Linked DNA regions of Homo sapiens. The protein of the gene in region 2 interacts with the protein of the main gene of each other region in a biochemical or structural test. Each region holds a gene or a part of one and is shown on either strand. Other genes may lie near its edges. The genes, in order: RNF115, RAB7A and VPS41.

Region 1 (3,650 bases), on a different chromosome or scaffold from region 2:
TAACAGTTTTGTCCTCTTGCTTTGAGAAGGAGCATATGGGCATTCCACTTATGGTTTCCATGGGCTGCATCTCAGATTCCTGTTCATTCTACGGGTTTCACTGTAGACAGAGTACTTTGTATTTAATGGCCGGGTGCGGTGGCTCACACCTGTAATCAGCACTTTGGGAGGCCGAGGCAGGTGGATCACTTGAGGTCAGGAGTTCCAGATCAGCCTGGCCAACATGATGAAATCCCATCTCTACTAAAAATCCAAAAATTAACCAGGCATGGTGGCGGTTGCCTGTTATCGCAGCTACTCAGGAAGCTGAGGCAGGAGAATCACTTGAACCTGGGAGGTGGAGGTTGCAGTGAGCCGAGATTGCGCCACTGTACTCCAGCCTGGGCGACAGAGCAAGACCTCATTTCAAGAAAAAGAGTACTTTGGCTGGCGCCAACAGGGTCCAGGTCTGTGCCTGCCATTGGAGAGGATGCCACAGCCACAGGGGTGGGCGCTGGCCTGGAGGCCTCCAAGGGGCATCTCCTGTGAGCCCAGGGGATGGGCAGGATCTGAGCGGAGAAGAGTGAAAGTGGAGGAGTGAGGCCAGAACAAAGGCTTTGCCGTGAAAGAGGTGGTTTCCCGCCTAGGCTCTGACCTTCACTCACTGTGTGGCCCAGGCCAAGGGCAAGCGTCTGACCTCGCTGGGCCTTTGTTTCTCAGGGGTAAGATGAAACAATGGCTCCCTCTCCCTCTCCCTCTCCCTCTCCCCACGGTCTCCCTCTCCCTCTCTTGCCATGGTCTCTCTCTGTCTCTGATGCCGAGCCGAAGCTGGACTGTGCTGCTGCCATCTCGGCTCACTGCAACCTCCCTGCCTGATTCTCCTGCCTCAGCCTGCCGAGTGCCTGCGATTGCGGGCGCGCGCCGCCACGCCTGACTGGTTTTCGTATTTTTATGGTGGAGACGGGGTTTCGCTGTGTTGGCCGGGCTGGTCTCCAGCTGCTAACCGCGAGTGATCCGCCAGCCTCGGCCTCCCGAGGTGCCGGGATGGCAGACGGAGTTGCGTTCACTCAGTGCTCAATGGTGCCCAGGCTGGAGTGCAGTGGCGTGATCTCGGCTCGCTACAACCTCCACCTCCCAGCTGCCTGCCTTGGCCCCCCAAAGTGCCGAGATTGCAGCCTCTGCCCGGCCACCACCCCTTCTGGGAAGTGAGGAGCGTCTCTGCCTGGCCGCCCATCGTCTGGGATGTGAGGAGCCTCTCTGCCTGGCTGCCCAGTCTGGAAAGTGAGGAGCGTCTCTGCCCGGCCGCCATCCCATCTAGGAAGTGAGGAGCGTCTCTGCCCGGCCGCCCATCATCTGAGATGTGGGGAGCGCCTCTGCCCTGCCACCCCGTCTGGGATGTGAGGAGCGTCTCTGCCCGGCCGCCCCGTCTGAGAAGTGAGGAGACCCTCTGCCTGGCAACTGCCCTGTCTGAGAAGTGAGAAGCTCCTCCGCCGGGCAGCCACACCGTCTGAGAAGTGAGGAGCCCCTCCGCCCGGCAGCCACCCCGTCTGGGAAGTGAGGAGCGTCTCCGCCCGGCAGCCACCCCGTCCGGGAGGTGAGGAGCCCCTCCGCCCGGCAGCCGCCCCGTCTGAGAAGTGAGGAGCCCCTCTGCCGGGCCAGCCGCCCCGTCCGGGAAGGAGGTGGGGGGGTCAGCCCCCTGCCCTGCCAGCCGCCCCGTCCGGGAGGTGAGGGGCGCCTCTGCCCGGCCACCCCTACTGGGAAGTGAGGAGCCCCTCTGCCCGGCCAGCCACCCCGACCGGGAGGGAGGTGGGGGGGTCAGGTCAGCCCCCCGCCCGGCCAGCCGCCCCGTCCGGGAGGTGAGGGGCGCCTCTGCCTGGCCGCCCCTACTGGGAAGTGAGGAGCCCCTCTGCCCGGACAGCCGCCCCGTCCGGGAGGGAGGTGGGGGGGTCAGCCCCCCCCCCCCCCCCCCCCCGGCCAGCCGCCCTGTCCGGGAGGTGAGGGGCGCCTCTGCCCGGCCGCCCCTACTGGGAAGTGAGGAGCCCCTCTGCCCGGACAGCCGCCCCGTCCGGGAGGGAGGTGGGGGGGTCAGCCCCCCGCCCGGCCAGCCGCCCCATCCGGGAGGGAGGTGGGGGGGTCAGCCCCCCGCCCGGCCAGCCGCCCCGTCCGGGAGGTGAGGGGCGCCTCTGCCCGGCCGCCCCTACTGGGAAGTGAGGAGCCCCTCTGCCCGGCCACCACCCCGTCTGGGAGGTGTACTCAACAGCTCATTGGGAACAGGCCATGATGACAATGGCGGTTTTGTGGAATAGAAAGCGGGGAAAGGTGAGGAAAAGATTGAGAAATCAGATGGTTGCCGTGTCTGTGTAGAAAGAGGTAGACATGGGAGACTTTTCATTTTGTTCTGTACTAAGAAAAATTCTTCTGCCTTAGGATCCTGTTGATCTGTGACCTTACCCCCAACCCTGTGCTCTCTGAAACATGTGCTGTGTCCACTCAGGGTTAAATGGATTAAGGGCGGTGCAAGATGTGCTTTGTTAAACAGATGCTTGAAGGCAGCATGCTTGTTAAGAGTCATCGCCACTCCCTAATTTCAAGTACCCAGGGACACAAACACTGCGGAAGGCCGCAGGGTCCTCTGCCTAGGAAAACCAGAGACCTTTGTTCACTTATCTGCTGACCTTCCCTCCACTATTGTCCTATGACCCTGCCAAATCTCCCTCTGCGAGAAACACCCAAGAATGATCAATTAAAAAAAAAAAAAAGAAAAAGAGTACTTTGTATTTGTATTTAAGAAATCAGATGTCAGAGATTAGCCTTTGTGGGATTATTAGTGTGTTCCTCACACCAACTTAATAAGTTTCCCTGAAATGAGGTCCATTTTCTTTGACTTTTTCATTGGCATGAGTAAAACTTTTTTACTAACACAGAGACAGGGAACTCTCACATTGTTCATTCATTCTGCAAATATTTATTCAGTGTCCCTAAAGTATGTGCTTTATCCTCTAATCTGCAGCTTTTGAATGATAGTTAATTAGGTCTTGAATAGACTAGCTCATCTTATCTGACTTTAAGTGCATCTGACCTGTGCCAGCAGATTAATTTATAAATTTATAACTGAGGGTATTCTGTTTCAGTGACTATAAAACTCATTTGTTTGTTAGCATACTCTTGTCTTTGAATTTCTCAAGTATCAAGAAATCAAAAGCAATCAGATGGTTGTTTAGTACATATAGAATCAGCAAGGAAATTGCATGATCTTTAAGAGAAATTCCATCCAGATTGTGATAAATGCTAAGGAATTACTCATATTTCACTTCAAATAATTTTTTTTTAATTTTTTTTTTTTTTATTGATCATTCTTGGGTGTTTCTCGCAGAGGGGGATTTGGCAGGGTCATAGGACAATAGTGGAGGGAAGGTCAGCAGATAAGCAAGTGAACAAAGGTCTCTGGTTTTCCTAGGCAGAGGGCCCTGCGGCCTTCCACAGTGTTTGTGTCCCTGGGTACTTGAGATTAGGGAGTGGTGATGACTCTTAACAAGCATGCTGCCTTCAAGCATCTGTTTAACAAAGCACATCTTGCACCGCCCTTAATCCATTTAACCCTGAGTGGACACAGCACATGTTTCAGAGAGCACAGGGTTGGGGGTAAGGTCATAGATCAACAGCATCCCAAG
Region 2 (3,650 bases):
GAACACAAACCACTGCAGCCTTAAACTCCTGGAATCAAGTGATCCTCCCGTCTCAGCCTCCCACCATCTGGAACCACAAGTGTACCACCACACCCACCTAATTTTTTCTTTTCTTTGTAGAGATGGAGTCTTACTTTGTTGCTGAAGGTGGTCTTGAACTCCTGGGCTCAAGCAATCCTCCTGCCTTACCCTCCCAAAGTGCTGGGATTACTCCTCCCAAAGTACTGACCACCATGCCTGGCCAAGAGTTCAATCTCATTAAAGGAAGGTATGAAAGTATACATTCAAAGGAAGAAAATAACCAGTTAACACTTTGGTCTTCCTCGGGGTAGTGAATCACAAATTTTCCTTCTTTATATTTCTGAATTTTCCTAGCTTTTTTTTTTTAACTGAATAGTTTAATAATCAGCAAAAAAGACGTATCATTTTAAATAAAAGGTAGTGGGCCAGGCGTGGTGGTTCACGCCTGTAATCCCAGCACCTTGGGAGGCCAAGGCGGGCGGATCACAGGGTCAAGGGATTGAGACCATCCTGGCCAACATGGTGAAACCCCATCTATACTAAAAATACAAAAATTAGCTGGGCATGGTGACGTGCACCTGTAGCCCCAGCTACTCAGGAGGCTGAGGCAGGAGAATTGCTTGAACCCGAGAGGCGGAGGTTGCAGTGAGCCGAGATCATGCTACTGCACTCCAGCCTGGCGACAGAGCTTGACTCTGTCTCAGAGAGAGAAAAAAAAAAAAGGTAGTGGAAGAAAGAGACACTTTTTTTTTTTTTTGAGATGGAATCTTGCTCTGTCGCCAGGCTGGAGTGCAATGGCACGATCCCGGCTCACTGCAAGCTCCGCCTCCCCAGTTCAAGCGATTCTACTACCTCAGCCTCCTGAATAGCTGGGACTACAGTGCATGCCACTATGCCCAGCTAATTTTTATATTTTTAGTATAGACGGGGTTTCACCACGTTGGCCAGGATGGTCTCTATCTCTTGACCCTGTGATCCACCCTCCTCGGCCTCCCAAAGTGCTGGGATTACAGGTGTGAGCCATCGCCCCCGGCCGAAAGATACACTTTTACAAGGGGTGAAATGTCGTGGTCTTTAGGGCACTAGCATATAATGGAAAGGCAGGATGGTACATCAGAAAGAGCACTGAACTGAGTTAGCAGACCTAGACTGACATTCCAGCTGAGCCACCTGAGCATACAGCCTCAGCTATTTCAGGCAGATACACACAACAGTTGTGAGCACCAAATGAAATCACATGTAAACTACAAATACCACAGAAACATTAAAAAGCATTTAAAGGCAAATGTGTAGGAAGGTTTCTACAAAATGTTATCGCTTTTTTAACAACCATTAACATGGTGCAGGTCAGAGGATTTAAGAGTGGGTTTTAAATGACCCGCAGTTATCTCAGGGATCCTCATATCTGTAAGTGAACAGAAGAACTGTTGGTAGGCTGACTGAATACCACATATAAGGGACACTATTTTTCATAAAGTCTATGCTTGGTTATTTAAGGTTAATTCATAGCAGCTTTGTAATTATGCACTCTCAAATAACTCAAACTACAAAGCTTATTCAATGGAAACCAACTTTTTATTACACTTACATACCAATATTGGAAATCAATGATGTAACTATTTACTTCACTAAGTAACTTTTAAAGGACTCCTGATCTGAGATGGTTAATGCCCAGCAGTATGAAGCAAAGCTGGAAAGGAAAGGCTGAGGGAGAAGAGAGAACTTCCTTTCCTTTATCTGGCAGCAGCCACACAAGAAGGACCAACTAAGAGACAAGCAAGGCTGGAGAATTCCTAAACTGCCCTTGTCCCAGGCTCCCCTTAAATAGGCTCCCTTGGATTTGCTTGGTCCCAACTGTAGACAGTCCCAGGACACCAGAAGTGGACAACAGAATCAGGCAAACTTAAATTTCTCAGCAGTGATGCCATCACCAAAACAGAGACTCCAGGCCCCATGAGTTAAGTACTGCATCTTCAAGCAAATGAACAAGGCCAATGCTGTAGGTCAGCATTGGAACCAACTCCCAAGCTTTCTTCCTCCCACAAGGAGATATTTTGCAAGTAGCTATTCTTAAATATGTTTTTGTAATCACAGCCTGGGATACTAAAATTGAAACTGGTAACAGACACTGCTAAAAAACTTGTTTTGATTTCACTCGCCACATCACTTTTACCTCTGATTCACAAATCGCAGTGACCACCACCATTAAGAAATGTTTTAAAAATAAGTTTTAGGCTGGGCATGGTGGCTCACGCCTGTAATTCCAGCACTTTGGGAGGCCGAGGCGGGTGGATCACGAGGTCAGGAGATCAAGACCAATCTGGCTAACACGGTGAAACCCCGTCTCTACTAAAAATACAAAAATTAGCCGGGCGTGGTGGTGGGTGCCTGTAGTCCCAGCTACTCGGGAGGCTGAGGCAGGAGAATGGCATGAATCTGGAAGGTGGAGCTTGCAGTGAGCTGAGATGGCACCACTGCACTCCAGCCTGGGCTACAAAGCAAGATTCCGTCTAAAAAAAAAAAAAAAGTTTTAAAACACAAACTATTTTTCTGTCTTTAATGCCATATGGAGTGTGGGGAAAAACAGAATAGAAGATTTAAGAGCAAATAACTGAAAAGATCAGCATATTGCAAAAATGTTTCTGCAGCAAACTGCAGACAGAGAAGCATAGAGAACTATTAGATAATATTAACAGATAAGCATGTGGTAACACAAAGGAATGGATGCCTGAGAATACAATGGTAGCCTTCCTTACATGAGAGGTAAGAATCATCAACAGCAAGCCAATAGCCAAAAAATAAGGGGGGAGGCGGGGAGTTCATTTCTCGAGTTTCAGTCGCCTTCAGAAGAAGACATTTAATGCCAAGGGGAACCTCTGTTTAGCCTTATTCAGGAGGACTTCTAATCCTTACCTCCCCAGGAAAAGCCTGCCTACAGCTCCAAGTCCAACATCTGGTCAAATCTATCTCAGCTGTATTTGTTGAATTAAATGAATGGGGAGATAAATACTTTATCATAGGAAAAACTAAAATATTTGTGTCAAATGCCAGAGAGGAATGTGCATAAGACAACTGTCATATTTGCGTGGTCTGTGTTTGCTACATCTTTGTTTACAAAGTCTAATGCCAAAGTAAGAGCAAAAACGTTATTAGTGAAGATCCCTTTGAAGACTTTTTTTTTTTTTTTTTTTGAGAAGAAGTCTCGCTCTGTCGCCCAGGCTGGAGTGCAGCGGCATGATCTCTGCTCACTGCAAGCCCTGCCTCCTGGGTTCACGCCATTCTCCTGCCTCAGCCTCACGAGTAGCTGGGACTACAGGCGCCCGCCACCACGCCCGGCTAATTTTTTGTATTTTTAGTAGAGATGGGGTTTCACTGTGTTAGCCAGGATGGTCTCGATCTCCTGACCTCATGATCCACCTGCCTCGGCCTCCCAAAGTGCTGGGATTACAGGCGTGAGCCACCGTGCCCAGCTGAAGACATATTAAAAGCTAATCAAATAACCAAAATTTTTTGGCTTCACTTGGCAGTGGGGTCAGAAAACTGATTCAAAGCCACACTTTACTATAAAGAGTTGTTCTCTGATTACAGGGTTGGTGAGCTTAGACACAGTTGGCACTAAAAAAAAATTT
Region 3 (3,650 bases), on a different chromosome or scaffold from region 2:
AGGATAATTTACCCCTGAAGCAAAATGACTTCACTGAAATTAGCAAATCCTATTGATGATCTTAAAGTAAACTTTTCTGGAAATGAGCTTGCTCAAATCATAAGTGAGGATTAATGTAAATGTAATAAACTGAATCTGTAAATTGGTAATGTTGAAAAGAAAAAACAATTGGGTAAGAACAAAACTGAAAACTAGCAGTGTAGCAGAAAGCACACTAGTCTTGGGATAAGGAAATGCTGAGAAGGCTGAGGGGTACATTCAATAATAACAAAGAGCCTTCCAGTTCTAAGTATTTGTGACTAACAACAACAAAAAAATCTGTTGTTTGCTAGAGAATTCTTAACTCTAATGTGAAGATATGTTCTGTGCATTTCCTTTGAACTTGGCCCTATGATTTCTTTTCTTTTCTTTTCTTTTTTGAGACGGAGTTTTGCTCTTGTTGCCCAGGCTGGAGTGCAATGGCGCGATCTCAGCTCACCACAACCTACGTCTCCTGGGGTCAAGTGATTCTCCTGCCTCAGCCTCCTGAGTAGCTGGGATTACAGGCATGTACCACCACGCCTGGCTAATTTGTGTTTTTAGTAGAGATGGGGTTTCTCCATGTTGGTCAGGCTGGTCTCGAACGTGCGATCTCAGGTGATCCACCTGCCAAGGCCTCCCAAAGCCCTGGGATTACGGGCGTGAGCCACCATGCCCGGCTGGCCCTGTAATTTCTTAAAGGGATCAGAAGCCCTGCTCTGAAGTTAGGCAGTCACCTCTGTGACCTCAACAACATCTCTACATTTTGCTTTCTTTATCTGTAAACCTAGGTTTATCAGATCTTCTTCCTGGCGACGCTGTGACAATTAAATGAACTGCTGCTCATGGGAATGGCTGGGTGACTTCGGTAGCTGGCATGCTGTCAGTACTCACTAGCACCCTGTCCTTTCCCCAAAAAGAAAGAAGCAGAAAGCTGTATTTGTTCCCATTTATGGGACTAAGAGATCAGGAACAATAAGGATGTGTTTTGCGCACTTTTACACTCATTAGAGGATGACCATATATCCCAAGGAAGATGAAGCCAGTAACTGTAAGACACAATTACAAGTTTGACTTTTCTCCCTCTATGATATGCTCTGTTCCATGAGGGCAATGGAGGCACCAGAGAAGGCAAGAGGAAACATCATTAGTCCGTCCTTCAGCATCAGGTGGTCCCACTGCTCCTGAGGCACCCTCAGTTTTCAGGGTCACTGGTTTCCTCCCTCCTGGCAAACTCTAGCCACAAGCGCTCAGACTCGAAGGTGTTGAACTCTCTTTTCTTCCTTACAAGGGTGCCAGAATTCTTAACTGCATTTGTTTATCCCAGTAAAAGTGAGTCCTTCACAATGAGAAGAGCTAACATTTATTCAATCAACAAATGCTGAGTGTCCGCCATGGCCAGATACTCTTTGACAGTCGTCACAGCACACAGAACATGTGATTAGTAAACATAATGGTGCAGGACATCAGCCTGCTAATGTTATTCCCAGGTGTCATCAAATGAGTGACAATTTGTACAATGTTTCATTAAATGCCTATTTAGAGGATAACCATAGTTGATGACACAGAAAAAAGCCAAACCCAGAATGCAAGAATCGTAGCCAGCAGAGCACGTGGAAACAACGTCCAAGTTGCAGGTAGCAGCTTGCAGGATAACCACAGTTGGCGACGCTTTCAGGCAGCTGGGAGAATTCTCAGTTGTCCATTTTATGGTTAAATGGTTTTACTAAGGTCTAAAAAATTCATTTCTAACTCCTAGACTTATGTTTCCATTACTATATAAAGAATGAGCCAAACAAATAAATAACAAAATATTCACTATGGACCCCAAAATTTCAAGGCATGAAGAGAGCCCCAAATTCTCTGTGAACTGCAAAGAGAAACCATTAGTACAGGAATAGATGAAGAAATTGTTTTTGAGTATAATATAAACATAAACAAATCTCTTAACAGCACGAGTGTCAACAAATGCTTTTGTTGTTGCAAAAACAGTCTCAAAAAGAGTGGTGACAAGGAGACTGACAAGGAGAAATGAGCTATTTTTTCATCTCCAAAATTGCACTTCCTGGTCCACGGTTCTTAGCACTGCAGATGTTGCAGAACTGTGCAGCAGAGTTCTAAAAATGCAATTTAAAAACACATATTTAAAAAATGATCTTCTTTTTCTACTCTCATATTCAGAAACACTAAGGTAGCGTTAGTCAGGGGGTGGAGAGGAAGTAATAGGATGGCACTCCTTTCTCTGGAGTTTATTTCTGGTTAACATAGGATTTAGTCTAGATCAGCTGTTACTCTGTGACTCCAAGGACACCCAACAGCAGAATACGTCTAATGTGACCTGGAGGAATATGACACTAAAAAAATGATAGCATCATGGAACACAAATCAGGCTGAGAAACACATAAGATACACAATGGCTCTCTACTGTTGTTGCTCATCTCTACAGCATGACAGCTGTCAACTGGGCCTGAATGAATTCCTTCAAATGGGTATGCTTTTATGTTTACTATAGTACATAGAACATTTCTAAATATTTTTACATTTGAAAACTAGATTAATTTTTGTTATGTGATATAAATCCACATTGTAATTTTTTTTTAACCCATACAGCCATAAGGATGAAGGGTTACAGTTTAAAGCACATTCCTCTAAGTGTGTTAATTTCCCTCTAGTTGATAGGTGCCAAGCTGCCAACTCACCATGCTGGGCATGGGCAGGCACTCCTTGTGGAACATGTGCCGGCAATGGAAGACCACCACGCTGAAGGGCTTAGCTGCATCTGGCGAGGAGGGCAGAGAAAGGAGGAGAACTTAATGCAACAAGCAAGATCATTTTAAACCAATCCCGACTGAAAGTCGAGTTGCAGTTTAATTTTCAGCAATAAGGTGCCTTTAGAGAATGGCTTATTTACAAAAGCATTCCTGAGGGGTGGTATGATCAGACACAAAACAGGTATTATAATCATGTTGCTATGCGATTCACAGGTTACTTGCTTAGCCTCTGTGTCACTTACCCAGACTACATTGAGGACAACTGTAGGAAAACCAGCAAGTGTATGTGCCAATGCGCCCCTAACCCCTATAATCATTATACACCACAGCTGAAGTTGAGTCTGTGGCTTCATAAAAATGCTTTGCCAGTCCACCTGCTACCTTTGCCAAGACCACACACTGACTCAGAGGCGGACCTGGGTTACAAGCCCAGGCTGTGGTGACCTTGCATTTTACTGCACTTGTGCTTGGGCAGATCCCCTCATCTGTTCCTGCTCTGTGTGGCCAGCTTATTTTTGGTAAGATTTAGTGTCATCAGCAGAGTAAATTTGGAGTTAAATCTAACTGTAGAGTGGGAATGTATGTGGTTCCTTTTTGCTGCAACACTGTCTGAAATGCTATGGAAGCTCACTTCTTCACCTGAGCCCATGCAGTTTTCAACAGAAGCACTTAAACATCCAAATCTAATTCCTCTAGAAAAGAACCTAAGTAGAACAACTTCTCATGGACTGCCCCATGAAATAATCCTTTAATCCTAAGTAAACATGAGGTCAACTAGGTCTTTTAGTACTTTGTTATGCTGAACTTATATTTGAAAAGCATTTGTTAGCATCCTAACAATGCTTTGTTAGTTTCCGCTTT

What was found.
Region 1: the proteins of RAB7A (region 2) and RNF115 form a complex in vitro, tested with the Homo sapiens proteins (one study listed by BioGRID).
Region 3: the proteins of RAB7A (region 2) and VPS41 form a complex in vitro, tested with the Homo sapiens proteins (one study listed by BioGRID).

What each region holds. Positions count from the first base shown.
Region 1 is NC_000001.11:145,765,091-145,768,740, reverse strand, and holds part of RNF115 (E3 ubiquitin-protein ligase RNF115), read left to right. Parts: intron 1-3,650. UniProt on the Homo sapiens protein: E3 ubiquitin-protein ligase that catalyzes the 'Lys-48'- and/or 'Lys-63'-linked polyubiquitination of various substrates and thereby plays a role in a number of signaling pathways including autophagy, innate immunity, cell proliferation and cell death.
Region 2 is NC_000003.12:128,729,132-128,732,781, reverse strand, and holds part of RAB7A (ras-related protein Rab-7a), read right to left. Parts: intron 1-3,650.
Region 3 is NC_000007.14:38,724,192-38,727,841, forward strand, and holds part of VPS41 (vacuolar protein sorting-associated protein 41 homolog), read right to left. Parts: intron 2,798-3,650; coding exon 2,718-2,797; intron 2,136-2,717; coding exon 2,055-2,135; 3' UTR 1-2,054. UniProt on the Homo sapiens protein: Plays a role in vesicle-mediated protein trafficking to lysosomal compartments including the endocytic membrane transport and autophagic pathways. Acts as a component of the HOPS endosomal tethering complex.